2 linked regions of the Homo sapiens genome follow. The protein of the gene in region 1 interacts with the protein of each later gene in a pairwise test. Each region holds a gene or a part of one and is shown on either strand. Other genes may lie near its edges. The genes, in order: NUCB2 and NR1I2.

Region 1 (12,861 bases):
CAAATATTTCAACAAATCTTCTTCAGCTAATAGGGTCAAAAATTAAAATTCTGGAAATTTAGAATTAGAAATGAAATCTCAAATAATGTCACTCTCCTAATTAGGATGAACATGGAAACTTCTATTTCTCATCGTGGTCTTCAAGCTTTCCATGATCTCATCTACCTTTGTAGTAGGGGGTCAAATTTTTTTTTTAACTAGACAATTTTAGAAACTTAAAGGAGGCAAAAATTTATTTCTGTCTCCGTGTGTTTACTCATGCTCTTCTCTATCCAAATTTTACCCATCTTTTTTTTTTTTTTTTTTTTTTTGAGATGGAGTCTCACTCTGTCACCCAGGCTGGAGTGCAATGGCCCGATCTCAGCTCACTGCAGCCTCCGCCTCCCGGGTTCAAGGGATTCTCCTACCTCAGCCCATCGAGTAGCTGGGATTACAGGGACCCACCACCACAGCCAGCTAATTTTTTGTATTTTTATTAGAGACGAAGTTTCACCATGTTGGCCAGGCTGGTCTCGAACTCCTGACCTCAGGTGATCCACTTGCCTTGGCCTCCCAAAGTGCTGAGATTACAGGTGTGAGCCACCGTGCCTGGACGACCCATGTTCTAAGAGTCGAATCTGTCTATGTTGTGTTTACCTTTCTTTGCTCTCCCAAGGTACATATTGTTCATATCACGTATTTTGTATATATTCTTTCAGCATGCTTTTTGCCAAGTTGGTTTGCGCTCTGTGAATAACAGTTGAGATAAAATGCACAATTAAGACAATTAAGGTACTTTTCAAGACACAACTAATTATGGGCACTAATATCAATAACATCAATTCAGATGTCTTTTTTGTTTTGGGATATGTTATTAATCTCTGAACACATACTAAACTAATTTTGCATTACTTAGAATAATATGTAAATTACTTTCCACTTTCTAAGGACCCTTTTGAAGGCTGGGTTCTACAAAATACCCTTTTGAGTACTGGGTAGCTGGCAGAAGCAAGTGCAGGATTTAAAAATGTATTGAAAATAATCCTTTAGGCCGGGCATGGTGGCTAATGCCTGTAATCCCAGCACTTTGGGAGGCTGAGGCGGGTGGATCACTTGAGTCCAGGAGTTCAAGACCAGCCTGGCCAACATGGTGAAACCCCGTCTTTACTAAAAATACAAAAATTAGCCAGACGTAGTGGCGGGCATCTGTAATCTCAACTACTCAGGAGGCTGGAGCAGGGGAATCGCTTGAACCTGGAGGCGGAGGTTGCAGTGAGCCGAGATCGCGCTATTGCACTCCAGCCTGGGCAACTAGAGTGAAACTACGTCTCAAAAACAAAACAAAAAACAGGCTACTAACAATTTCAAATAATTTATTCAAGGAAAAACTTCAATCACTTTCATTATTTCCAATCAAAAATTTTTTTTACAACCATGATGTGGTGAAAAGTATACTTAGTTAGAATTTCATGGCCAGATTCCAGTACGGGCTCTGCCAAACGAACTTGGCCAAGTCAGTTAACTTCCTTCTGTATTTATAACCTTTTATAAAAGTAGGGCTGAATTAGATTACAGTAGTCCTCCTTTATCCTAGAGGGATATGTTCCAAGGGTCCCAATGGATGCCTGAAACTACAGGTAGTACCAACCCTTATATACGCTATGTTTTTTGCTATACATACATAATAATAAAATGAATAACAGTAATACACTGAAATGAAAGTTATATGAATGTGATCTTTCAAAATATCTTGTTTTACCTCAGGTAATTGAAACTGCAGAAAGTGAAATCGCAGATTAGGGAGGACTACTGTACCTCCAAGATTATTTCTGATCTTAGAATTCTCTGATTCTAAAATCCTAAAGCAGCCTAATAGAAGTTCAGATAGTAGTTACTTGATTTTATTTTTGGCAGAGCATTTTTTTTTTTTTTTTTTTTTTTTGAGACAGGGCCTCACTCTGTTGCCCAGGCTGACTGGAGTACAGTGGTGTGATCATGGCTCACTGCAGCCTGGAACTGCCAGGCTCAAGTGATCCTCCTACCTCAGCCTCCTGAGTAGCTAGGACTAAAGGAGCATGCCACCACACCCTGCTAATTTTTAAGTATTTTTTTGTAGAGAAGAGGCCTCGCCATGTTGTCCAGGCTGGTCTCAAACTTCTAGGCTCAAGCGATCTGCCTGTCTTGGCCTCCCAAAGTGCTGGAATTACAGGCATGAGCCACTACACCTGGCCTTGGCAGAGTTTTTTTTGGCAGTGTATTTTAATTATCTGAAGTACAGTATATGTAAATAATAAAGAGATTATAATTTTAATAATATGTTTATTGAGTGATACAGATCTGTTTTTCATAAGCCTATAATCTAGGATACTCCAATCCGTTGTTAAGACTGGAAAAAAAGGAGATATAATAGTTTCATTGATGAGTGTCCTTTTCTACAGATGTAGACAACAGAGGCTCTAAGATCTATACTAATGTCTTGATCAGGGAAAAGCTGGAGTCCAACTCAGCTGGTCATACACTTGATATTTTATTTGAACCTCACTTTCCTGTTGACTTTCATTTTCAAAGGGAAAATGGAGGTGAGCACCAGGTTATCTGTGGCCTTTGAAACTGGTGCCATGGAGAAACTCAAAAGCCGTTTATTTTTCTTCACCCTACCCTGTTTCATCATTAGATTTGTGACATTGATAGTAAGAAGAAGCAATCCACGTTTCCTAGCTCAAGGCAGTGTCTTAGAGAAGGAAACCTGAGTCTCTTGCTACAGTTCTGATTTAAGGTTGGAAGGAAGAGATTATGTTGGATGCATTGCTTTCATTGGTCTATGATTGCATCAGGACTTTGGTTCTGGCAATGTTCAGAGAAGAGCTCTAATGTGGCCTTTCAAAAATGACTGTAAGACCGGGCATGATGGCTCAGGCCTGTAATCCTTGGACTTTGGGAGGCTAAGGTGAGCAGATCACTTGAGCTCACAGGTTTGAGACCAGCCTGGGCAACATGGTGAAATCCCATCTCTACCAAAAATATTAAAAACTAGCTGGGCGTGGTGGTGCGTGCCTGTAGTTCCAGCTACTCTGGAGGCTGAGGCGGAAGGATGGCTTGAGCCTGGGAGGTGGAGGTTTTGATGAGCTGAAATAGCGCCAATGTACTCCAGCCTGGGTGGTAGAGTCAGACCCTGTCTCAAAAAACAAAAACGAAAACAAAAATTACTTTTAAAGTTGTATGTCAAACTGGTCTTGCTTGCTTTTTGTGTCGTTAATTTTTATTTATTTATTTTATTTATTTTTTTTAGACAGGGTCTTTCTCTGTCATCCAGGCTGGAGTACATTGGTATGCATGGCTCGACCTCCTGGGCTCAAGCAACCCTCCCATCTCAGCTTCCTGAGTAGCTGGGACTACAGGTGCACACCACTACACCCAGCTAATTTTTTGATTTTTTTTTGTAGAGGTGGGGTTTCACCATGTTGCCCAGGCTTGTTTTGAACTCCTGGGCTCAAGTGATCCACCCGCCTCAGCCTTTCAAAGTGCTGGGATTATAGGTGTGAGCCACCATGCCCAACCTGGTCTTGCTTTTTAAGTTCTACCACTTTGGGTGTTTACAGAACAGATTTTCATATTTCTTTATGTTTCCTTTTCAAGACAAGAAGGGCATTAATATTTATTGAGCAATTACCATTGTCATGCACTGTGCTGGTTACTTTGTATTCATTCTTATTTTCCTCGCATCAACAAACCTGTGAAGAGGTATGAGCTCAGTTTTCTAGGTAGGAAAATCAAGACTCAGAGGCAAGTAGCTTGCGAGTAAATGGGGGAAGTTAGGATTTAATCTCCTGTTTGTGTGTTTATTTTTTACCATGTTGTGTCAATAAAAGTCATATAACTTTCCAAAATACAACATGCATGTGATTACTCTCCTGCATAGATTATTTTATGTTAAATATACCATATGTAAAACAAGAAATACATGTCTCCTTAAAATTTGAAAATATTTTATTTGCTTTTTTTTTTAACAGACTACTTAGAAATAACTGCTTATGTTTACTAATGAGTTTGCACATGAGCTGATTTATGTTTTACATGTTATTTGGTGGGGTTTCAAAAAAGAATTTGAAATATTTCATCTTATTACTGATCTCTGTGACAAACTAGGAACAAAGTTAATTTTTTTAAATTGGTGGTAAGAGTAAAGAAAAATTCCAGTTAAGGATTTAACAGGAAAAGTTGCCCTATATCTTGAAGTCTCATTGCTGAAAAAAATAAGCTTTTAATCTGAATTCCTCCTAGTTATTCAAGAGTGGAGGAATACAGGAAAATTTGGGCATAATAAATCTATATCTATATCTATATATCTATATCTATATCTATCTATCTATCTATCTATATATATATATATATATATATTTTTTTTTTTTTTTCCCAAGACAGAGTCTCGCTCTGTCACCCAGGCTGGAGTGCAGTGGCATCATTTCGGTTCACTGCAACCTCTGCTTCCCAGGTTTAAGCGATTCTTGTGCCTAAGCCTCTTGAATAGCTGGAACTACAGGCACCTGCCACTATGCCCGGCTAATTTTTGTATTTGTTTAGTAGAGATGGGGTTTTACCACATTGGGCAGGCTGATCTTGAACTCCTGACCTCAGGTGATCTCTCCACCTCGGCCTCCCAAAGTGCTGGGATTACAAGCAGGAGCCACCGTGCCCGGCCAACATCTTTGTTTATTCCGGTTTTTGATTCTGTTTATTTCATGTATCTTTCTCCCCTCCTTAATGGAATATGATATAATTTAGTCTCCTTCCACATCATAAAAATTTGGCACTTTTCACATTATGTGACAAATGCATACACTATCATGTACCATTACCACTGTAAAAAGTCTAAATTTTGTGATTTTGTGTCTTTTATTTATTTATTTTTATTTTTTTTTACATTTAGAACGTGTTACGAGTCAGTTTTTAGTGAAAAAACATTGAGCTAGGAGCCAAGACCCATCTCTTCACTATTTTGGTATTGTGCAAGTCATCTTACCTCTCTGGATCTCAGTTGTCTCATCTGTAAAAAGGAGATAAAAATTATTTACCTGCCTGAACGTAAGTACTCAATAATTGCATTTGGTTGCAAAGAAACATGACTATCACTACCACCACCACCAAAATACAAAAAAGGAAAAACCAAAAACGAACTCACAGATGGCTTAAACATGCAATATTTATTTTTTATATAAAATAATAATTGAAATAGCACTCTAGGATGGGTATAGTGGCTTTATAAAGTCATCAGAGACTTAAGCTTCTTTCAGTTCTTTTATCAGTGATCCCTAAGACATTCTTGTAGTACTGGTTCTTGTATGTCCAAGATAGCTGCCAGAGCTCTAACCATCACTGTCATGTTCCAGGCAGCAAAGCATAGGCGAAGAAAGATGCATCCTCTTCCTTTAAGGAGAATTCCTGAACCAAGGCTGAGGCTATAAGAAAGCAGGGAAATGTAGCTGACTGCATGTCTGCCCTCTATAAAATTGGGCTTTTGTTACTGAGAAGGAAGGAAAGATTTGGATATTGGCAAGCAAATAGAAGTGTCTGCCATGATATGAATCTTTTTATCTTTCAGCTCTGAAATCTGTAAGCTGTGATAACCACTCATAGAAGCTTCTATAATTTGCCATGGCAGAGATATAAGTCTGACTATTAACTACAGAAGGAAATAATCTTCATGTAATAAATTGTGTTTCTGTTTTTACTTTTAGCCCTTAATTCATTATAGAAGCTTTTCTGTCTTATTTGTGGATTTGTTCTGGTTATTTTTTAAAATTACCCATAAATGCTCAATAGATGTTTGTTGTACATTTTATGGTTGTGTTAAAAAGAGCTAACATTTATTGAGCTACTTGCTATAATCAAGGCACTAAAATGACAGAGATAAGTTATCCCAAGGGTATCACATAACTAATCATCAGGAAGTAAATTTATATTGAAAGTAAATATAATTCATCTCAAGATACATTTCACTATGGTCACATGAGGAACACTTGCCTTCCTTGCTAGCTAAAAGTAGTTTGTTCTTTTTCTTTCCTTTCTTCTTTTTTTAACCACTTAACTGTTAGTTGTCTTGAAATTTTCTCTTACTACTAGTTCTTGCTTAACTTATTTAGCCACACCAATATTTTATTTCCTTCCAGACTTTTATTTTTTTTGTTGAGACGGAGTCTCACTCTTTCACCCACGCTGGAGTGCAATGGCTTAGTGCAACCTCTGCCTCCTATGTTCAAGCGATTCTCCTGCCTCAGCCTCCTCAGTAGCTGGGACTACAGGCATCCACCACCACACCCAACTAATTTTTGTATTTTTAGTAGAGATGGGGTCTCACCATGTTGGCCAGGGTGGTCTTGAACTCCTGACCTCAGGTGATCTGCCTGCCTCAGCCCCCTACAGTGATGGGATTACAGGAGTGAGCCACCGTGCCCAGCCCCTTCCAGACTTTTCTTTGTGAATATTATATAAATATACCCTATACTTGTCCTGCAAAATGGTTCAATTGTCATTATTTCTATTTCAAAAGTAAACTGAAATAAATAGCTTTGAGAAAAAGAAATTCAGGGAATGGAAATTGGAGTGAGAAAGATTCTAAAGATTCAGTCAATCTTTTAGAGTTTTTAGAAGGGAGACAGTAAGTTAAGATTTTATTTCTACACAGTATATTTGTATTTTTGAAAGTTTTTACATTTTTTGGTTGTATTAGATAGGCACAAAGTACAGTAGTTCTTTTGCTGCTAGTATTGCAGTTTCCTTTTTTCTGATCTAGACTTGTTGACCTCAAACAAAATAATCAGGAGACTTGTGACCATAAAAACAACCCAGTTTTTAAGAGACATTTAACGTTATAAATCACCTGACTGAGAATGTCTGTTTGGTGAATACCATTTTCATGACTTTTAATTTTTTTTAATTAACAGAAAAGTATCATGCTATGCATTGTTTTGTAAGCAGCATTTTAAAAATTGCAATTGTATTTAATAGCTTACCTTCCTCACTAGATTGAAGCCCTGTGAGGGTAAGGACTATGTCGATCTCGCTTACCTTTGTCTTCTAGCATAGTATCTGGTACCATAGTCATTACTTAATACATAAATATTAGTTTAGTTTTGTTTTTAGAAACAAAGTCTCAATACATACATACATACATACATACATACTTATAATAGGTTAAAGGAAACATGCTTCAATTCAGCCATTAATTGAAAAGGAAGAGGGGCAAAAGAAGAGGGTTGAGGAAGATGGAAAAAGATACATAAAAGAGGCTGGGCGCGGTGGCTCATGCCTGTAATCCCAGCACTTTGGGAGGCCAAGGCGGGCAGATCACAAGGTCAGGAGATCAAGACCATCCTGGCTAACATGGTGAAACCCCGTCTCTACTAAAAACATACAAAAAAATTAGCCGGGCGTGGCTGGGTGAGGTGGCTCACGCCTATAATCCCAGCACTTTGGGAGGCCGAGGCGGGCGGATCACGAGGTCAAGAGATCGAGACCAGCCTGGACAACATGGTGAAACCCTGTCTTTACTAAAAAAAACACAAAAAATTAGCCAGGCATGGTGGCATGCGCCTGTAGTCCCAGCTACTTAGGAGGCTGAGGCAGGAGAATTGCTTAAACCCAGGAGGCGGAGGTTGCAGTGAGCTGAGATTGCACTACTGCACTCCAGCCTGTGCAACAGAGCGAGACACTGTCTCAAAAAAAAAAAAAAAAAATTAGCTGGGCGTGGTGGCGGGCACCTGTAGTCCCAGCTACTCAGGAGGCTGAGGCAGGAGAATGGTGTGAACCCGGGAGGCGGAGTTTGCAGTGAGCCAAGATCGCGCCACTGCACTCCAGCCTGGGTGACAGAGTGAGACTCCGTCTCAAAAAAAAAAAAAAAAAAAAAAAGATATATAAAGGAGGAACAGAGACTACTTCCAAGGAAAGAGAAAATTTTCAGTTTTCTGTACTTTTCACCCTGGTTATCTATGGTAATTTTTTTTAACCACTTCCAGGATATCTTGCCCAACAATCAAAACAGGAAACCATCACACATACATGCGCGCACGTGTGCGTACACACACACACACACACACACACACACACACAAAGCAAACTTAATCTGTATAACTATGGGTATAAATCAGTAGCTAAGAAATCTGCCTCTGTGTATGAATGGAAATTTTATTTTTTGAGACATGTTCTCACTCTGTCACCCTGGCTAGAGTGCTGTGGCGTGACCATGGCTCACTGCAGCCTCAACCTGCTGGGCTCAGGTGATCTTCCCACCTCATCCCCCACCAAGTAGCTGGGACTACAGGCATGTGCCACCATGCCCAACTAATTTTTGTATTTTTTGTAGAGACAGAGGTTTCACCATATTGCTCAGGCTGGTCTTGAACTCCTGGGCTCAAGGAATCCACCCTCCTTGTCCTCACAAAGTGCTGGGATTATAGGCAGGAACCTCCGTGCCCAGCAGAATAGAAATTTTGACTTGGTTGAGACAGGGGAAGAGAGATTAGCTTTCTTTTAGGACTTTAAAATTTAAGGAAATTATATCTACTGAATACTAAGAGAAGCTTAAGAACTCTGCTTACTTTGTAATTTTACCAGAGGCTCTGATGCCTTTGGGGTCAGTGCCTCCCATTCTGTCTTGAGATGACTACATAATTTAGAATTTCACACCATCCTACTTTAGAGAGTAAATTATCAGCCTGTCCTGGTTTGGATGAGTCTACTGTTTCAGCCTGGTTCAGCCCAGTGTCTCCTCTTTAGGTCCGTATCTCTCTTATGAAAGAAGAGGGTGATAAAGGAAAGGAGAAGGCCATTCTTACTGACCTGATAGTGGAAGAAAAGTAGGTTAGTTCTCCTTCTTCCTATTGCCTGTCCTTATCACTCATCTCTTTCTTCTATATGGATATTTGTATATTTTCTCATTCATGAAAATCTGTAAACCTAGTAAATTTGCTGTTATTCCTTTAATGCAGACACATTTGACATCTTGGCATTTAAAGAGACTTTTGTGTCATTATTTTTCTGCCTAATGTGCTGGAATACTTACCATTTTTTTTTTAAATACAGTTGATGTTTATGGAGGCCTTATTAAGAATTAGAGTCAGTGTTTAAATTAATTGTCCTAGTTATGTCTAGAATAAGCACTAACAGATTAGAAACTAGTAGAAAACATTCTCCATCAATCAAAAATAAATTTAAAAGGCAAGAAAGGAGAGGAAATAAATGTTAAAGAGGTAGGATAAATAGAAAGCCCTACCAGCCTGAGCAACATAATGAAACCACAACTCTACCAAAAAAAAATATATATATATATCACCACGCATGGTGGCTTGCTTGTGGTCCCAGCTACTTGAGAAGCTGAGGCAAGAGGATCTCTTGAGCCCAGGAAATCAAATTTGCAGTGAGCTGTGAGCTCACCACTGCACTTCAGCCTGGGTGGCAGAATGAGAACCTGTCTCAAAAAACAAAAAAGCCCTATAGAAGGTGGTAGATTTAAAAATCAAGATATGGTATTAAGGCCGGGCGTGGTGGCTCACACCTGTAATCTCGGCACTTTGGGAGGCTGAGGTGGGCAGATTGGTTGAGGTTAGGAATTTGAGACCAGCCTGGCCAACATGACAAAACCCTGTCTCTACTAAAAATACAAAAAATTAGCAGGGCATGGTGGCGCACACTTGTAGTCCTAGCTACTCAGGAGGCTGAGGCAGGAGAATCGCTTGAACCTGGGAAGTGAAGGCTGCAGTGAGCCAAGATTGCACCACTGCATTCTAGCCTGGGCAACAGAGCAAAACTCCACCTCAAAAAAAAAAAAAAAAAAAAGATACGTTATTAAATCAACTTTAAGGGCTAGATGTGGTGGCTCACTCCTGTAATCCCAGCACTTTGGGAGGCCAAGTTGCATGGATCACTTGAGGTCAGGAGTTTGAGACCACCTTGGCCAACATGGTGAAACCCAATCTCTACTAAAAATACAAAAATTAGCCGGGTGTGGTGGTACCCACCTGTAATCCCAGCTACTTGGGAGGCTGAGGCAGGAATCGCTTGAACCCAGGAGGTGGAGGTTGCAGTGATCCGAGATCGCGGCACTGCACTCCAGCACGGGCAGTAGAGTGAGACTCTGTCTCAAAAAACAAAAAACAAAAATGGCTTGAAGAAATCACCATTCCTCTCCCCGGTAGAGAGAACAGTGTTGTATGGGAAAACACAAAAGGTAACAATTCAAGAAAGTGTTTAAAAATACTTGGACTACAAAGGTGAAGAAGTCCTTAGAATACCTTTATCAATTTATTTCGTTTAATTTCTTTATGTGTGCATAAAAATGATGTGAGAAAAATCTATGATATGCCTAAAAATACTTTCAGCAAACATAAGATAGAATTGTAAGTGAAAAAGCACGGTGGTGTAATTTAATTGGCAGCATTTTTTTCTATATAGTATACAATGGTGTGTCTTAATATCGATGGAATCTTTTATCCCACCCTGAGGTCTCTGTCACCCAGGCTGGAGTAAGGTGGCACAATCATAGCTCCCTGCAGCCTAGAACTCCTGGGTTCAAGCAGTCTTCTTACCTCAGCTTCCTGAATAGCTGGGATTACAGGTGCAAGCCACTGCACCCAGCCCAATGGAATCTTAAAGCCTATTTATTTTATTTTATCTTTTTCTTCTTCTTCTTCTTCTTCTTTTTTTTTTTTTTTTGAGACAGTCTCATTCTGTTGCCCAGACTGGAGTGCAGTGGCACAATCTTGGCTCACTGCAACTGCAACCTCTGCCTCCTAGGTTCAAGCCATTCTCCTGCCTCAGCCTCCCGGGTAGCTGGGACTACAGGCATGCGCCACCTCTCCAGGCTAATTTTCATATTTTTAGTAGAGATGGGGTTTCGCCATGTTGGCCAGGCTGGTTGCAAACCCCTGACCTATGGTGATCCACCCACCTCAGCCTCCCAAAGTGTTGGGATTACAGGCATGAGCCACCGTGCCTGGCCCTTAAAGTCTATTTAATAACATGTATATACACACACACACACACACACACACACACACACACACACACACACACACACACACACACACACACACACATATATATATATATTTTTTTTTTTTGAGATGGAGTTTTGCTCTGTTGCCCAGGTTGGAATACACTGGTGCAGTCTCGCTCACTGCAACCTTTGCCTCCCAGGTTCAGGAGATTCTCCTGCCTCAGCCTCCTGAGTAGCTAGGACTACAGGCGTGTGCCACCATGCCCGGCTAATTTTTTGTATTTTTAGTAGAGACAGGGTTTCATCATGTTGGCCAGGTTGGTCTTGAACTCCTAACCTCAACCAATCTGCCTGCCTTGGCCTCCCAAAGTGCTGGCATTACAGGCGTGAGCCACCACGCCCAGCCTCTTCATACCCTTTTGCTAGAGATTTTCTTCCAAGCACCCTATATTAATTTTACAAGCTTTACAAGCTTGGTGCTGGTGCTTTCTTCATCTTATCAGAAGATGATGACAGGAAGTTTTCAGATTCATAGTCTTTCCTCAAACTCTCCTTAAATGATTCATTGATGAAGACCTGGAGGGCTGGCCTTCATGAATCACACCAACTTGTATTACTTTTCAGGCAACCTATTCTTTATTCAGATACACGCTCTCAGAATGTATCAAGAACTAAACTAATAAACACACTTGTCAGGTTATGTAGTGCTCTTCAACATTCAAATCAGATTTAGCTACTCTTCCTTTAGCTCAGCCACCATCCATCAACCCCATACTTCTTAAAAATGCTTAATATAACATCTTGGGGGAAATCATTTTATAATTTAATGTTTAATATGGCAACAACTTTTGGCTGTAGGCATTTACAGCAATGTTACAGTGATTTGTTATTTTCTGACCATTCTCGTATCAATCTTTTTACCACCTTTAGCATTAATGTAGATTTTGAGGCATGTAAAAGAACATCAGGATTTTGTCAGAATTTCCTGTTGACTAAACTCAGCTTTATTTTTTCCTTAAACTATACTTTGCTGGAAGTTGTGCAGCTTCTGTTCAGTATTTTCAGGAAGTTCCTGACAAATTGACATTTGCATGAGTCCATCAATTCAGCCTCATGTTCCTTGAGTTTTTTTATTTATTGGAGGCATAGTTGGTTTCTGCTATCTTCATTTGCATTGTTTGGCTGCTGATAGGTAATCCTGTTGTGTTTTACTAACAAAACGTAACATGGCTTTGTCTACTTGCAGGTATCTTCCTGTCTAGAGTCAGGTAAAGCACTAGTTGTTCCTTTATAAGAAAGAGTAAAATTGCTGTTATTCCCCTAATATCAAGTATTTGCTTCACTAACATCAGCTGCTTTGTTTCTGTGCTTACAAAATAACTTTTCATTTTAATGCCAAATCATAGCTTAATGTTTATGAAGATATTTACAATGACAAGCACCAACAATGCAAAAACTCAATCTGAAGTTATGACAATAATAATAACTATAATAAAGTTCATGCATGTACACATAACAAAGACTATGTTGCTGTTGCTATGTGGCTAATTACAATTTTCATATTCCATTAATTGAGGCTGGGTATAGTAGCTTATGCCTCTAATCCCAGCACTTTGGGAGGCTGAGGCAAGAGGATTGCTTGAGCCCAAGAGTTTGAGACTGGCCTGGGCAACATGTTGAGACCCTGTCTCAAAAAACAATAAAAAAAATACTAATATGGTTGGGATATAAAGGTCAGTCATGAGATAAAAGATTAAATTTACTGTAAAGCTAGAAAATCTTAAGTTTATATATATATACCTAATATTTGAATAAAAATTAACAGAATTATAAGGAAAAAGAGACAAAATCATGATATAAGATTTTCATGTGCTTTTCTAGTGATTGTAGAA
Region 2 (16,057 bases), on another chromosome or scaffold:
TCTAATTGGTCTCCCTAAATTTGCATGAAAGAGAGATGTAGCTGGCACACCTCAGACACCCAGTCACTGTCATTTTCCTGCCCAGAGGGCAACATTCTGTAAAGGAACAGTGATGGAAGAGTGGCATGGGAGCAGGACTGCAGCTGCTGGGCTGGCTCCCCCATCACCACAGTTCAGATCTATTTCTAACCCAACTCCAGGGGTTCCACTTCCATTATTTCTTGCCGTGTAACAAATCTCCCCTAAACTCACTGGATTAAACCCACCACTGTTTCATTTTCTGACATGATTTTCTGTGTTGGCTGGGCTCAGCTGGGGAGTTCTTCTGCATCACAGGACCTTGGCCAAGGCTGCAGTCACCTGGAGGCATAATTGGGCTGGGGAGTCCAAGAGGGCTCACTCACACATCTGCTGTTTGGTGAGGGCGGCCGGGAGGCTGGGGTGGCTGGTCCTGTCTCATCGGTGCGATCTCAGGCCTCTCCCTCTTCACATGGCCTCTCCGCATGGTCTCTTTGGGTGGTCACTGAGCAGGGTAGCCAGACTTTGTTGCATGGTGGCTTAGGGCTCTCCAAAGACAAAAGCAGAAGCTACCAGGCTTCTTATAGCGTAGACCCAGAATTGTCTCTTCCCCACATTCTATTAACTAAGCAAGTCACAGACCATCCTAGACTCATTATGGGAGGGGGCTGCACAAGGGTGTGAATCTTTCGGGGCATGGCTCCTGGGGGCCACCTTGGATAACAGCTGTAATGGGTTCTCTAGCGGGGGCTTCATAAGCATATGAGAGAAGGAACTATAGAATGTGCCAGAGTCGGCTTGCTTAACACTTGGGCAAAACAAAATGAAAGTTATACAAATACTGCGGAATGAGATTCTAGCATTAATTCTACTATCTCCTCATTAAGAAATTGGGGAAAGTGTAAATTAGACATGATTTAAGTAAATGTCTTTTTTCTGGTCCTTTGGTGATATTTCTTTTATCTTCTTGGTCCATGTCACCTGTGGGCTTCTCCTGTGATTCATGTAGTCATGTTGTACTTGTCACTTCCATTATGGGGAAGAGCATTTATATTTATTGCGAGAAAGCAGCATCTCACCATCTTCAATTGTCCAAAGTTCACAATTGATGTGCAGAATCTTTGCCAACTGTCTCCATTGCCCCAGGTGCTGCTATCCCTCATGGCTCCTGAATGATGCTGAAAATGTAAGGGAGGTTGGTCTCTTCTAATGTACACTCTGAAATACTATCCTGCTAATAACATTTTCTCTGCCTGCCTGTGATGCTCTTTGATTTTGGAACACTCTTTGTGTCTGTGAACAGTTAGAGGGTTATGTAAAGTCCCTGGGTTTTTGTCATAAGAGTGACTTCCAAGTTATTTGGAATACATAACAGAATATATCTGGTGTGTAGTAGATGCTCAACACATGTCTGTTGAGCAATATGATAAATGCTATGATGATTGTTATGAGGAATAAATGAGTGCCATGTTCTGAATGTTTATGTTTCCCCCAAATTCGTATGTTAAAATCCTCATCCCCAGTGTGATGGCTTTAGAAGATGGGGACTTTGGGGGGTGATTGGGTCATGAGGGTAGAACCCTCATGATTGAGTTAGTGTCCTCATGAATGAGACCCCAGAGGCCGGGTGTGGTGGCTCATGCCTGTAATCCCAGCACTTTGGGAGTCTGAGGCAGGTGATCACTTGAGCCCAGAAGTTGCAGACAAGCCTGGGCAATATGGGGAAACCCTGCCTCTACTAAAAATGAAAAAAAAAAAGTAGCTGGGTATGGTGGCATGCACCTGTAGTCCCAGGAGGCTGAGTTGGAGGATCGCTTGAGTCCAGGAGATAGAGGCTGCAATGAGCTGAGATCACACCACTGAACTCCAGCCTGGGTGGCAGAGTTTTTTCTTTTCTTTCTTTTTTTTTTCTGTCTCAAAAGAGAGAGAGAGAGAGAGAGAGAGATAGAGAGGTCCCAGAGACCCAAAGAGCTAGCTGGCTAGCCCCTTTCACTATATGAGGACAGAGGGAGAAAGTGCCATAGATGACAGGAAGCAGGCTCTTACCAGACATTGAATCTACCAGTGCCTTAATCTTGGACTTCTCAGCCTCCAGAACCATGAGAGATAAATTTCTGTTGTTTATAAGCCACTCAGTTTCCGATATTTTGTTATGGCAACCTGAATGCACTAAGACAATGAGTGACCTTTTACAAAGGACCTGAATAATCATTATTTTCCATTTTGGTATCTGTTCCATCCCATATTCTCTAATACAAAATCTGTCCCAAAACACTAATCCTGAACCTAAGATTGCTGCAGCTACCTGCTGAAACCATCTTTCTCAGTGTACTTTTTTTTTTTTTTGAGACAGAGTCTCACTGTGTTGCCCAGGCTAGAGTGCAGTAGCGTAATCTTGTCTCCCTGCAACCTCTGCCTCCCAGGTTCAAGCGATTCTCATGCCTCAGCCTCCCAAGTAGCTGGGATTACAGGCACGCGCCACCACACTCAGCTAATTTTTGTATTTTTGGTAGAGATGGGGTTTCTCCACGTTGGCCAGGCTAGTCCTGAATTCCTGGCCTCAAGTGATCCACCCATCTCAGCCTCCCAAAGTGCTGGGATTACAGGCGTGAGCCACCACATCCAGTCCCACAGTGTCTTTTAATATATTTACATTTAATGGCCAGGCACGGTGGCTCACGCCTGTAATCCCAGCACTTTGGGAGGCCAAGGTGGGCAGATAACGAGGTCAGGAGATCGAGACCATCCTGGCCAACATGGTGAAACCCTGTCTCTACTAAAAAAAATACAAAAAAATTAGCCAGGCGTGGTGGCAGGCACCTGTAGTCCCAGCTACTCGGGAGGCTGAGGCAGGAGAATGGCGTCAACCTGGGAGGTGGAGCTTGCAGTGAGCCAAGATCATGCCACTGCACTCCAGCCTGGGTGACAGAGCGAGACTCCGTCTCAAAAAATATATATATACATATATATTTACATTTAATATATTTACATTTAACTACCAACATAGTTGGTATTTTTTTTTTTTTTTTTTTGAGACGAAGTTTTGTTCTTATCGTCCAGGCTGGAGTGCAGTGGCGCGATTTCGGCTCACTGCAGCCTCCGCCTCCTGGGTTTGAGCGATTCTCCTGGCTCAGTCTCTCAAGTAGCTGGGATTATAGGCACCCGCCACCACTTCCGGCTAACTTTTTGTATCTTTAGTAGAGGTGAGGTTTTACCATGTTGGCCAGGCTGGTCTCTAACTCCTAACCTCAGGTGATCTGCCTGCCTCTGCCTCCCAAAGTGCTGGGATTACAGGTATGAGCCACCGCACCCAGCCCCATATTTGGTATTTCTACCATACATCTGTGTTTTCTATTCGTCTCACCCTTTCAGTTTCTTAACTCTCTAATTGCCTTCTTTTGAACTTTTTTCCTTCCATTTTTTCCTTTCTATTAGCTTCCAAGTTATGCATTCTATTTTTGGACTTTTAATGATAACCCTAGACATTTCAACAAGCACACTTTACTAATCAAAATCTAAGATTTACCATCTTTTTTTCCCTTCAACAATACAGAACCTTAGTTACTGCATCCATCCATATTTTAGTTGTATTTTGTTTTTCCTAACTCCCAAGATATTATTATTATTGGTTTATGAAGTCATTGTTTATTCCGATTTTTACAGTAAATTTTTATTCATTTTCAAATCTGCTTGGTCAATTTTATGGTCGTTTATTCTTTGTTTATGTCTTCAACCTCTCGTACTGTTTATTTAAACATTTCTGTGTTTGATAACTCAGGGCATTTTCTCATGTCTAATTCTAGAAGTTTTTTTGGTTTGTTTTGTTTTGTTTTGTTTTGCTGACTCTTGCTCATCATGCTGTGCCAGTCTTTTCATTCATGACTTCTGAGTATTTGCTCATATTTCTTTGAAATTATATGTGATTATTTGTGCCTAGGTATAAAGTGGAAAGTGAGTTCCCCCAAAAAGGAGGATTTCTGGCCAGACGCGGTGGCTCACGCCTGTAATCCCAGCACTTTGGGAGGCTGAGGCGGAGGCTGAGGCGGGCAGATCACTTGAGGTCAGCAGTTTGAGAACAGCCTGACCAACATGGTGAAACCCCATCTCTACTGAAAATACAAAAATTAGCTGGGCATGGTCGTGGGTGCCTGTAGTCCCAGCTACTCAAGAGGCAGAGGCAGGAGAATCGCTTGAGCCCGGGAGGCAGAGGTTGCAGTGAACTTAGATGGAGCCACTGCGCTCCAGCCTGGGTGACAGAGCAAGACTTGGTCCCCCCCTCCCCCCCACCAAAAAAAAAAGAAAAGAAAAGAAAAAAAAGGAGGATTTCTGTTGGGTGTCTGGGAGAATTACCAACCCAAATGCACTTTAAATCTTAAATCAACTTTTTGGCTTGAGGTTTTTGTGAACACCTAAAGTATACATTTTGTCTGCAAGCCTACATAAAGTCAGGATTATGATTTGAAAAATCAGGGATTTTCCCCTGTGCCTGTTCAGTTCAGGTTTCCAGTCAATGTATTTTATTCACAGTGTAATGGAGGGCCAGGGTCAGAGACAGATTAATTCCTTATTTACTCTTACAGGTGAAACTGTCAGATGTCACCTGTCATGATGTTGGAAACAGAAATTTATGTGTTAGAATTTTACTAAAGTTTCGATTTTGGCATTAGAAAAAGCATCGTCATCTGTGGTGGTGTCTGCCCTTGTCAGTCAGTGCCTAGAGAGAATTTTGGGGATGGTAGTAACAGGACAATCCCCCATTTCTACTGAACATCCTCAGTGTCTGTTCCAAGTAGAATTCAAGTTATGCTCTCAAGGTGGAAGTTGCCTGGGGAGGACATCCTTGAGTACAGCTCAATTTTTTTTCTTTCTTTTAGAGATGAGGTCTCACTTTATCACCCAGGCTAGAGTGCTCTGGCATGATTCTAGCTCACTGCAGCCTCAAACCCTCAGGCTCAAGAGATCCTCCCCGCTCAGCTTCCCAAGTAGCTGGGACTATAGGCTCACACCATCGATCTTGGCTGTTTTTTTTTATTTTTTGTAAAGATGAGATCTCACTTTGTTGCCCAGGCTGGTCTCAGATTCCTGGGCTCAAGCGATCCTCTTGCCTCAGCCTCCCAAAGCCCCGGGATTACAGGCATCAGCCACCATGCTTAGCTACAGCTCTATTAATAGGCACAAGTTCTTCAATATTCACTGAGACCCCAGCTCTGCTGGGACCACAGGCCATTTTTCTTCCCATGTTGTGATCTTGCCCACCATGCCTCCACTTTTTCCCCATCTGCCTGGCTACTTAGTTGAAAACTCTTTCTGCTCAGCCTTTCTAGCTCCCTGTGGGAGCTTGGGCCACACCCCACCTGAAAGACTATCCTCCCTCAATGTCCCCAGTCCCAGAAATCATCTTGAACAAGTAATCTGTCCATGAGCTGCTCCCCATTCAGACCTCTGGCCAGGTTGTGGCCTCCTAACCTCAGTCCACTCAGCTGTGGCCTCCATGATCCGACCCAGACAGCCTGCTCTCTTTTCTTCTCATTTCTTCCTCCCTCTTACCCTTATCTTTCCCATGCTCCTGTTCACATGTTCTACTCCAGGGCTCTATTTTTGTGTACAAAATGTCATGATTACAGCTCTCTTTATAACAATTCCAACCCCCATTCCCCGCTTTTTTTCCCCATGAGAGGTCAGCTCCCGAGTTCACAGGCCCAAATGTGAGTGATGCATAGAAGGGACAGAGTGTTTCCTCTGAGGCCTCTACACATCCCTGTCCAGTCTTTTCATTCTCTGTGGTTTTCTCATTTCTAGTCCAAGAGGCCCAGAAGCAAACCTGGAGGTGAGACCCAAAGAAAGCTGGAACCATGCTGACTTTGTACACTGTGAGGACACAGAGTCTGTTCCTGGAAAGCCCAGTGTCAACGCAGATGAGGAAGTCGGAGGTCCCCAAATCTGCCGTGTATGTGGGGACAAGGCCACTGGCTATCACTTCAATGTCATGACATGTGAAGGATGCAAGGGCTTTTTCAGGTAGAGTTACCCATCAGCCTTCACCCACGTGCCACCACTGACCCACTGGGTAACGTCTCAGGGCCTCAGCTTGACCTGTCCCCCAGGTTCAGAGTGTGGGCTGGTGGCCCACCCAAAGGCCTTGTAATTAGTCTCAAGGGAGCCATTTATATCCCAGAGGAATCCTTCATCTTCAGTCTTCCTGTTCTACCCAGGAAAGGTCTCCTTCCATTAAGATATCCCTTGGTTTCTCCATGTGCTCTTGAATAAAATGGAAAATGACTCAGTGAAAGATAAGGAATTTGAAAATCCCAAATCCAAGTGTTCACATCCGCCTTCTGGGGTGGTTGTTACATAAAGAATGGCATAAAATAAATGCTTAGACCATGGGAAGAGAAACAGACCGAAGGGAGGGGAAGGGCGGGGAGGGGAGAAAGCCATGTGTGAGGAAGCACTCCAGGTGCACCCTCCGGAGGGCACAGGGTATGCAAGGAGCAGCTCCCATCTCGGGAGCCACATGTGGGACCCTCATGCATTCCCAAGACAGCCAGCCTGACAGCCCTTTGCAGAGTTCTTCGTGGTGGCTGGGCATTCAAATGGAAAAGGGCAGGTTCCAGGGAGAAATGAACATTCGTGTTGCATGAGTTATAACAGGGGTGAGACACATCAGCAGTGTCAGACTGGGTTCAGCTACAAGTCACAGGACACTTGTCGCCAATTGGTTTGGCAATAAGGAAAATGTGTTACCTCTCCTAACAGGAAGTCTGAAGGCCTCCAGGTTAGTGAGTTCAGCAGCTCATTTCTTTCCATTTTTCTCTTCAGCCATCCCACCTGAGAGCTCTGATTGCAGTCTGGCTCCCCTTGTGGGGGCACAGTGCTGGGGCCCCAGGCAGGAATCATTATGTTCAGCAGAAGCGCACAAAGGCCCATCTTTGAGAGTAAGGAAATCTTTCCCAGGAGTCCCCTCACATTGGCTAGAGCCGGGCCCAGCCTATGCCTGAACTAGTCACTAGCAAAGAGCAGCAGGTATGTCCCTGAGCTGGGCACACGCCACTTGACTGTGTGGAAGAGGGTGGATGTCTGCACCAGCTCCAGATGCTGCTGGCACAGAAGAGGCTGCCCAAGCAGTGTTCGTGCATCCTGCCTCAGCATGCAGGAATCTTCTGCTCTCCCTTCCTCATTTGGGTACTATTCCTGGGACTCTCAGAAAAAGGCAACATGTTGTAGTGGGCAAAAGCTAAATCCAGTATCAGGCAGACCTGGATTCAAATTTCAGCTTGTCATGTACCTGGAGGACAGCTGGGGATCCATCGTCTCCAAGCCTCAGTCTCCCTCATCTGTGCTAGGCAGATGAGATTATGAGTTTCACAGGGTTTTAGAACTAAATTTACAAAACTGCAAAATACCTAGCCTAGCATCTGATACATAGCATACCTTTAAATAATGTGAGCCCCGGTTTCATCTTTTACCCATTCTCAGTGGACTTTGATGTAGCATCAGAGTTTTCTTACCCAGGCCAGTTGGGAAGGCAAAAGGCAGGGATGGCATCTGTGAAGAACATGCCCCTGGGCTGGTCACTGGTCCGAGGCCCGAGGCCTCCAAGCTCAAACCTGCCAGGTCACTGCGGGCTTGGCTCAGCTTCCCAGGCCTGCCCTCGGGGACCTCTGCAGCCCTACCTGGCTGTTCCATGCTCCTGGGCCAGCCTTCCCTCAGTTTCCACTCTGGACCAGAATCAGAGGCCAGAGCCAAGGGAGAGATTGTTTCTTTCCATCCAGCTGTGGAGATGGGGAAAGTAAAGGTAGGACTGCACTGACCGTGTCTTTTGTGGGACAGGCAGGACTTCCGGGCTGGGAGGAGGAGATCTTGTACCAGAGTCTCCAAAAGGCATCTGCCCCATTGCCTCTCTGCGCACCGCAGAGAGGGGTGTGCGGGCCCGTGGGTCCCGCCTGCACGCTCTGCTGTTCCAGGCGCTCGACCTCTTTGCCCCCTAGGTCAACGAGGGGAATCCACTCTGCCATGGGGAAGTCGCTGCCCCGTAGGGTATAAGAACTTCCCCATAGTTCACCCCTTCCTCCCTGGCCGCCCAGTCTGGAAGGGGAGCTGGAGAAGGCGGCGGGGGGTGGGGGGAAGGCGGGGGGGAAGGCGGGGGGGTGGGGCGGGCTTCTCTGGTTTCTTACCCTCCTGGGGTCAGGTTTCCTCAGCTCCCTCCCTTAAGGAGGGGAAATCGAGGAAGAGGCCCATCTCCATGGAAACTTTCTGGTAACAAGGCTGTGAAAGAGAAGGGGACAGGTGTTTCAGGAAGAAGGGAAGGCGCTGAGGATGGGCCTGGAGAGGAAGTGTCCCTGAAAGTGGTTTTGGGGCTGCCCGCGCCAGCGAAAAGCACGTGTCCCATTTCCTGCCGGAATGGCCAGAAAAGGTCTCCTCCCCGGCTCTGCCCCCTCTAGCTGAGTCCTGGACCTCTAGGGACTCCCACCTACACCCTTCCCATAAAGCCTGACCCAGCTGGGACGCAAAGGCTAGTGTCCCCCTCCCCGAGTCGGTAGGGGCTGGGGAGGGAGGTGGTATGGCCCGGAGCCCCAGGCCGAGGGCCCGGGCACCCGTGCATCCCCCCTTCTGCTCCCCATTCTCTCACAGGAGGGCCATGAAACGCAACGCCCGGCTGAGGTGCCCCTTCCGGAAGGGCGCCTGCGAGATCACCCGGAAGACCCGGCGACAGTGCCAGGCCTGCCGCCTGCGCAAGTGCCTGGAGAGCGGCATGAAGAAGGAGAGTGAGCAGTGGGCGCGCGGGCGGGCCGGCGCCGGGGTGCACGGCTCTGAGTAAGGACGTGCCGTGGGTGTGGGCATGCTTGTGTGGAGATGCGCGCCGAGTGTGCGCGTGAACACACGTGCACATGTGAGCTGGTGTCCGTGTGCAACAGGCAGCCACCTGGGGGAGCGCTTGCAGTCGGCCCTCTGGGAGATGGAGGGAGTCGGTAATCTCTGCCCTGGGATGTGTGCTGGGCAGCCCTGGACAGGGCGTGCCCTCTGTCTCCCCTCAGTTGCTCCTGCATCATTCTTTTTGTCCCCTTCATAATTGTTGTAATGGTTTGAAACCACATTTGCGGGTAGGAGTGTGAATCTGGGGGAGGGAAGCAGGAGCCACATGGGTGATAGGACCCGGGGCCTTCTAGGTGCTAGCCCCATCAGCTGCCCCAGACCTGGATCTTTATAGGGGAACTGTTTGCAGACAGGTGACATGAGGTGTTCTCATTCTACCTATTTAACTTTGATATATTTGTGCTCCTAGGTCACTATGAGATTAAGGCTCATGCGGAAAAGGCTAGGTGTTTCTAGTGCATATTTGTCTCCATGGAACACAAAGGGACCCAAAGCTGCTTCTTTCAAGGACAAGTTCTCTAGGCTGCTGGCAGGCATTCTTGATCTCTCCCCACCAAGGACCTCATAGCTTTGTTCTACACACATGAGTGGGCTCCAGAAATCCACAGAAGACCCTAAGGCTCTGGGCTATATAAGAAGTCTCTGGAGTTGCTATTTCTTGCTAAGCTGTAGCCCAGCTCTCTAGGGTCTTGGAGACCCAGACACCTCTGAAGAGTCTTGGTATATAATTCACCAGAAAATGATAATTGTAGATGCCATTTACTGAACATCTCTTATGTACCAGGAACTATATTAGGCACCCTACATGCAAGGTCTCATTTAACAGCGGTGCGAGGTAAACACGGTTTCTCCGGATCACAAAGGAGAAACCTGGAGGCAGGAGAGGTTAAGGAGGTTGCTTGGGGTCACAGGTAGTAAGTGGCAAAGCTTTCATGCAAACCCAGCGCCTTTGGATTCTGAAGCCCGTGCTCTTGCCAGGGCCCCACAGTGTCCTCACAAACTCCACTGCAGAGGGCAAAACACCAGCCTCACCTCATCTCTGTCCTCACCCAAGTGTTTCTCCAGAAGAGCCCACAGGCCTCTTGAGTCCAGACAGGGGAGAATTGCTTGTCACCATTACTTTCTCTTTTGCCTAACGGCTTCTGCTGCCTTGAGAGGGTTACACAGTGGCTCTCCAGGGGGCTGGAGGCTCACCAGGGGCACGTGTGCCTGAGCCAGCCTCACTGTCCCTGCAGTGATCATGTCCGACGAGGCCGTGGAGGAGAGGCGGGCCTTGATCAAGCGGAAGAAAAGTGAACGGACAGGGACTCAGCCACTGGGAGTGCAGGGGCTGACAGAGGAGCAGCGGATGATGATCAGGGAGCTGATGGACGCTCAGATGAAAACCTTTGACACTACCTTCTCCCATTTCAAGAATTTCCGGGTAGGAGGAACTGCACAGTGACCCGAGGTGTCACTGCCATCTTCATTCTCACATAGAAACTGAGGTTCCCCAAGGATAAGAAACTTATACAAGGTCACAGCTAATCAGTGGTGGAGGGTAGATTTGGAGAGCTGGTCCTGCATCTGTGCTAGCTCCTCAAAGCCTTAGTCTCATTCCCAAAGGTTCTGAAAGTGTGGTCCCTGGGTCAGCAGCATCAGCATGCAGATTTTCAGGTCACCTCAGATCTCCTGAATCTGAAGCTCCAGGGAGGGGCAGGACCCCCCGGTGATTCTGTTGCAGGTTCAGGTTTGAAAAATCACTGCTCTCTCCTTTAAGGCAGGTAGGAACTGGGTCTAAGCAATAAGTGGAGGGAAAGCTAGGCAGTTCCCCAGTGTTGCTGGCATTCGGGGCTTTATGAGGACAGGATCAGGACCTGTTGGGGGTGTGACTTTTGTGAACTGGTGTTTCTTGATCCCAGCACATTAACTATGTCTGTGCTCTAAGTGCCCTCCTTCCCCTTTGCACTGATAGATATCTCAAGTGGCCCTTCACAGCCCAAATAACTGGATTAGCCCAGTGACCTCAGATCTGCTCTTCCCATCCATAGCACCCTAAACCTTCTGAGTCTCCTGAGCCCAACATCTGGAATGCTTGGGATGACACACCATGGTTGCAGTCCCCCTTACCCTCCATTTTAACCAAGCAGGGATGTGTGTGACCATTAATTCATAGATCCCCAAAGCACCTTCATCTGATAGAGAACACCAGAGAGAAGAAACAAATGCTGTGTGTGTATATGTGTGAGGACACACGCATGCATGTGGGTGTGAATGCCTGCATTTGTGCATCCTCTCGAGCTGCAACTGTGGCTGTGCATGTTTGGCTGGGGCCTGAGTTGGGACCTGTCTATGAAAGCACATGCTGTCTCTCCTCTGTCCACCTCCTGGCATGTGTCCTAGCTGCCAGGGGTGCTTAGCAGTGGCTGCGAGTTGCCAGAGTCTCTGCAGGCCCCATCGAGGGAAGAAGCTGCCAAGTGGAGCCAGGTCCGGAAAGATCTGTGCTCTTTGAAGGTCTCTCTGCAGCTGCGGGGGGAGGATGGCAGTGTCTGGAACTACAAACCCCCAGCCGACAGTGGCGGGAAAGAGATCTTCTCCCTGCTGCCCCACATGGCTGACATGTCAACCTACATGTTCAAAGGCATCATCAGCTTTGCCAAAGTCATCTCCTACTTCAGGTAGGACATGGAGACTGGGTGGTTGGGTGTGGAAAAGAACTGGAAGTGGCCAGGAGGTTCAAAGGGCCTGGGGTAGATCCTGAATTTGGGGGATATTGGTGTCAGAAGACCCTCCTTTTCCTGTGCCCTTTCCCCGGGCAGCCAGTGCTGCTGGGGAGTAGAGCCCTTGCTGTATGGCTGGTTAGTTTTGTGGCTGTGGGCCTGCCAGTGTCTCTGCCTCTTCACCTGCTCAATGGAAGCTAAAAATGCCTCCCCTGCAGGGCTGTTCTGTGAAATAAGAACACATCCGAAGAACACCCAGCACAGAGTGGGCATTCAGATAGTCTTTTGTACTCTCCCTTAAAGGGGCAGGAATCACATGTTGACAGTTCCAGAGCAAGGAATGAGAGGAATAGAAAAGATAAGGCTGTGAAGGCCATGGGGAGGGCGGGTGGTCCTCAGAGCCCAAGGGTCAGGTCTCCCCAGAGCTAGATGTGGAGGCAACAACCATCGGGCAACTGGGGTTAGTGGGAGACATGGGAACTTCCTGGGGTGGCAGGAACCACAGCCCCAGAATATGTGTGCAGTCGTAGGATTAGGGATGGTGCCAGGTGTATCTGTCCTTGGGTAGGCCACCTTGCCTTGCCAAGCCTGGTCAAGTGGGGCTGAAACACACCTGCCACAAGCTCCTGGTTTCTTCAGCAGGTTGAGGGTAGGTTATACTCTAGGAGCCCAGAGGTTCTTCTCTGGCCCTGTAGGAGTCATGCGTGACTTATTTAATGGGGTGATGCTGACAGCAGGTTTGGAATGGGGTTCAGATGGTAGCAAATAAGCTTAAAGGGGCAGGGAGAGAAGAATACTTATAAATGTGGACATTGGGAGATCTTTGGTGAAATCCAGTGACTGACAATTTAACACCAGGGCTTCCCACTTGCTATTTCTCAAGGCCACCAATGTCGAGCACAGTGACCTGAGGTGTCACTGCCATCTTCATTCTCAGATAGAAACTGAAGTTCCCCAAGGATAAGAAACTTGTACAAGGTCACAGCTAATCAGTGGTGGAGGCTAGATTTGGAAGTACCAAAGCCAGCTCGATGCCAGGTCCTAAGCTGGGCAATGGGGAGGCACAGAAGAATAAGATCAATTACATGGCATTTGTAGCTCAGTGTTAGGGATCTAAAAGAAGGATGGGCGCCAGTAGCACAGGGTCTGAATTCCCAAGGCCAAGAGGTAGTGTTTCCTCAAAACCCAGAGTAAGCAGCCTCCCTCTCAGGCTGTGAAGCTTCCTCCTTGTAAGGAATGCCTCCTTACTGGGGAGGTGGGGGCCCCTCCCAGGTTGGGAGGGAGTGATCCCTGCAGGACCGGAAGGGTATCCATGTAACCATAATCTCAGAGGCTTGTTAAGCCGCCTCCATGGTTAGGCCTGTGCTTCAGCGCTAGGAGTGGGGCTTCAGGCATCTGGGCTGCAGGGAAACAGTAGAAATACATGTGTGCACATTAAACCCAACACCGACAGCAGGAAGCAAACATCCCCACTACTGGAACTCAGGCCAAAAGGGCGGCACTTTCACTCTGGAAAGGGGAGACTGCACTCTGGAAAGACTTCTGAGAGGGGCAAAGACATAGCATGGCCTGAGGGGCTAGCAGGATATACTAAAGGGGAAGTCATTCCAAGGGGGAAACTGAGGCAGAAAGGAGGAGGCCAGGGACCAGAAGCCAAAGCACTAGCTGTAGGTCAGGATTTGTATAGGAGCTGAAGGAGATGGGGCCAGCCTGTAAGGGACCTGGATGCCAAGCTCAGTGGGTGGAGTTCCCGGAGGTTGGAGGGGAGGAGAGGATGCTGCGGGGCAGAGCTGTCTGCTGGGTTGTGAGGGGAGAGATGAGAGGCAGCCAGACAGCAGCCACAGTCATCCTCAGGGAAAGGAGCCATCCTCCCTCTTCCTCTCGCCCCCAACTTCTGGATTATGGGATGGCTGCTGGTGCCGGTCTGTGGGCTGCCTCCCAGGGAGCTGTCCTCCCCTCCCCATCCTTGCTGCCAGGGACTTGCCCATCGAGGACCAGATCTCCCTGCTGAAGGGGGCCGCTTTCGAGCTGTGTCAACTGAGATTCAACACAGTGTTCAACGCGGAGACTGGAACCTGGGAGTGTGGCCGGCTGTCCTACTGCTTGGAAGACACTGCAGGTGCCCGAGAGAGCCTGCCTGCCCTGGCAGAGGGAGGGAAACACTGCAGTTATGGGAGGAAGGGAGCTACGCCAGGATATGCAGGTTCTGGGATGGCAGGGCAGGAAGATGGAATGGTGGAAAACAAGATATTGGTGAGGGATGATTAGATCTTGGTCAGCTTGCTGAGAAGCTGCCCCTCCATCCTGTTACCATCCACAGGTGGCTTCCAGCAACTTCTACTGGAGCCCATGCTGAAATTCCACTACATGCTGAAGAAGCTGCAGCTGCATGAGGAGGAGTATGTGCTGATGCAGGCCATCTCCCTCTTCTCCCCAGGTGAGGATCTCCCCTAGGCTGCCTGACATCCCCCCCAGCCTTATCTGCCCTCCCCAGGGAAGGTCCCAGTCTATGGCCTTGCTCCTCATTCACTGCGCAGCCAGGATGGGGGCTCTCGCTGGTTTCTCCTGGGGTCAGTGGGTGATGCCCAGCCCTGGTCTTCCTTCACTTCCCTGCCTGGGTGACTCCAGCTCTGGAGGGTGGTTGGCGAGCAATGCCCTGACTCTGGGCTGGACTGAGCTTGTCTTTGCCCCATGATCTTGCACCACACCTCCCTCCCCTCCAGACCGCCCAGGTGTGCTGCAGCACCGCGTGGTGGACCAGCTGCAGGAGCAATTCGCCATTACTCTGAAGTCCTACATTGAATGCAATCGGCCCCAGCCTGCTCATAGGTGAGCACAGCAGGGGGTGAGGACCCGTGAGGGTGATGTGAGGGAGCCGAGGTTCAGGGAAATTGCCCAAGACTTCATGGCCAGAGGGTGGCATCTGGAGGTAGCCCCAGCCAGACCAGGTCCAAAGCTCACACTTTTGAGCACTACCTAACCACTTCCCAGGAAAAACACAAGCAAACAGGGGGACGTGGCCCAGAAAGGGGCTTCTATACCTTCACTGGTCCTCAGTAGCTCCTGTGACCTACTGCCCAGACTGATGCCCACAGACCCAGAGACAAACTTGGATTTTACGGAGCCCAAGGCCATGAAGGGTTAAGGCCAACACTGAGTATTATAGTGTGAACCTATAAACTGAAATCCTTATTTGGCCTGCACAGCTTTCTTTTTGGCTTGGTGTCCTGGGATGCTGGGAGTGGCCATGTCTTTATTTGCTCAACCCTTCCTTGTATGGAGGCAGGAGGCTGGAAGTGCCAACTTTCTTTTCCATCATGGGGATACTGAGGCATATGGTACATCTCAGACACTAGATCCAAAGCTAGTTCCAGGAAGGGATTCCAGCCTGCAGCCCCTAACCTCCACAACGACTCTGCTCAGTCCTGGCCCCTGGACATTAACGAAGGCAGTGACAGCCCCACACCCCCAAACTGGTAGCTGCAATATCTACATTTTCCCACGGAAGTCTCTGTGTACAAAGATGCAACTCCCGCAGCTGGGTGTCGTGGCTCACACCTATAATCCCAGCACTTTGAGAGGTCAAGACAGGAGGATCCCTTGGGGCCAGGAGTTCAAAACCAGCCTAGGCAACATAGCCAGACCCCAACTCTAGAAAAATTTTAAAAAATTAGCCAGGTATGGTGGCATGTGCTCTAGTCCTAGCTACCCAGGAGGCTGAGGCTGGAGGTCTCTTGAGTCCAGGAGTTTGACACTGCAGTGAGTCCATGATCGTGCCATCATGCTCTAGCCTGGGTGACAGAACGAGATCCTGTCCCTTTAAAGAAAAAAAAAAAAAAAAGACACAGCTCCCATGAATGGGATGGGAGTGGGGAGAGTATTGGGCAGGCTGTTCTGCCTTTCTCATCTACAGGGTAAAAGAGAAGCTTACGGAATTCAGCCAAGCCTTGTCTCTTGGCTGACCTGAAATGTCCAGAGATTATGCTTGTGCAGCCTCAGAGCAGCCCTGAGGCTTGTGGGTCAGGGCGGGCTGCACCCACAATCTTTTCTCTGGCTGGCATGCAGGTTCTTGTTCCTGAAGATCATGGCTATGCTCACCGAGCTCCGCAGCATCAATGCTCAGCACACCCAGCGGCTGCTGCGCATCCAGGACATACACCCCTTTGCTACGCCCCTCATGCAGGAGTTGTTCGGCATCACAGGTAGCTGAGCGGCTGCCCTTGGGTGACACCTCCGAGAGGCAGCCAGACCCAGAGCCCTCTGAGCCGCCACTCCCGGGCCAAGACAGATGGACACTGCCAAGAGCCGACAATGCCCTGCTGGCCTGTCTCCCTAGGGAATTCCTGCTATGACAGCTGGCTAGCATTCCTCAGGAAGGACATGGGTGCCCCCCACCCCCAGTTCAGTCTGTAGGGAGTGAAGCCACAGACTCTTACGTGGAGAGTGCACTGACCTGTAGGTCAGGA

The links.
Region 2: the proteins of NUCB2 (region 1) and NR1I2 interact in a two-hybrid assay, tested with the Homo sapiens proteins (one study listed by BioGRID).

The regions. Positions count from the first base shown.
Region 1 is NC_000011.10:17,277,883-17,290,743, forward strand, and holds part of NUCB2 (nucleobindin-2 isoform 1 preproprotein), read left to right. Parts: intron 1-4,906; 5' UTR 4,907-5,061; intron 5,062-8,751; exon of another isoform or gene 8,752-8,835; intron 8,836-12,861. UniProt on the Homo sapiens protein: Calcium-binding protein which may have a role in calcium homeostasis. Acts as a non-receptor guanine nucleotide exchange factor which binds to and activates guanine nucleotide-binding protein (G-protein) alpha subunit GNAI3.
Region 2 is NC_000003.12:119,801,412-119,817,468, forward strand, and holds part of NR1I2 (nuclear receptor subfamily 1 group I member 2), read left to right. Parts: intron 1-5,817; coding exon of another isoform or gene 5,818-5,839; coding exon 5,840-6,036; intron 6,037-8,649; coding exon 8,650-8,783; intron 8,784-10,127; coding exon 10,128-10,315; intron 10,316-11,274; coding exon 11,275-11,549; intron 11,550-13,567; coding exon 13,568-13,710; intron 13,711-13,911; coding exon 13,912-14,028; intron 14,029-14,314; coding exon 14,315-14,420; intron 14,421-15,656; coding exon 15,657-15,801; 3' UTR 15,802-16,057. UniProt on the Homo sapiens protein: Nuclear receptor that binds and is activated by variety of endogenous and xenobiotic compounds.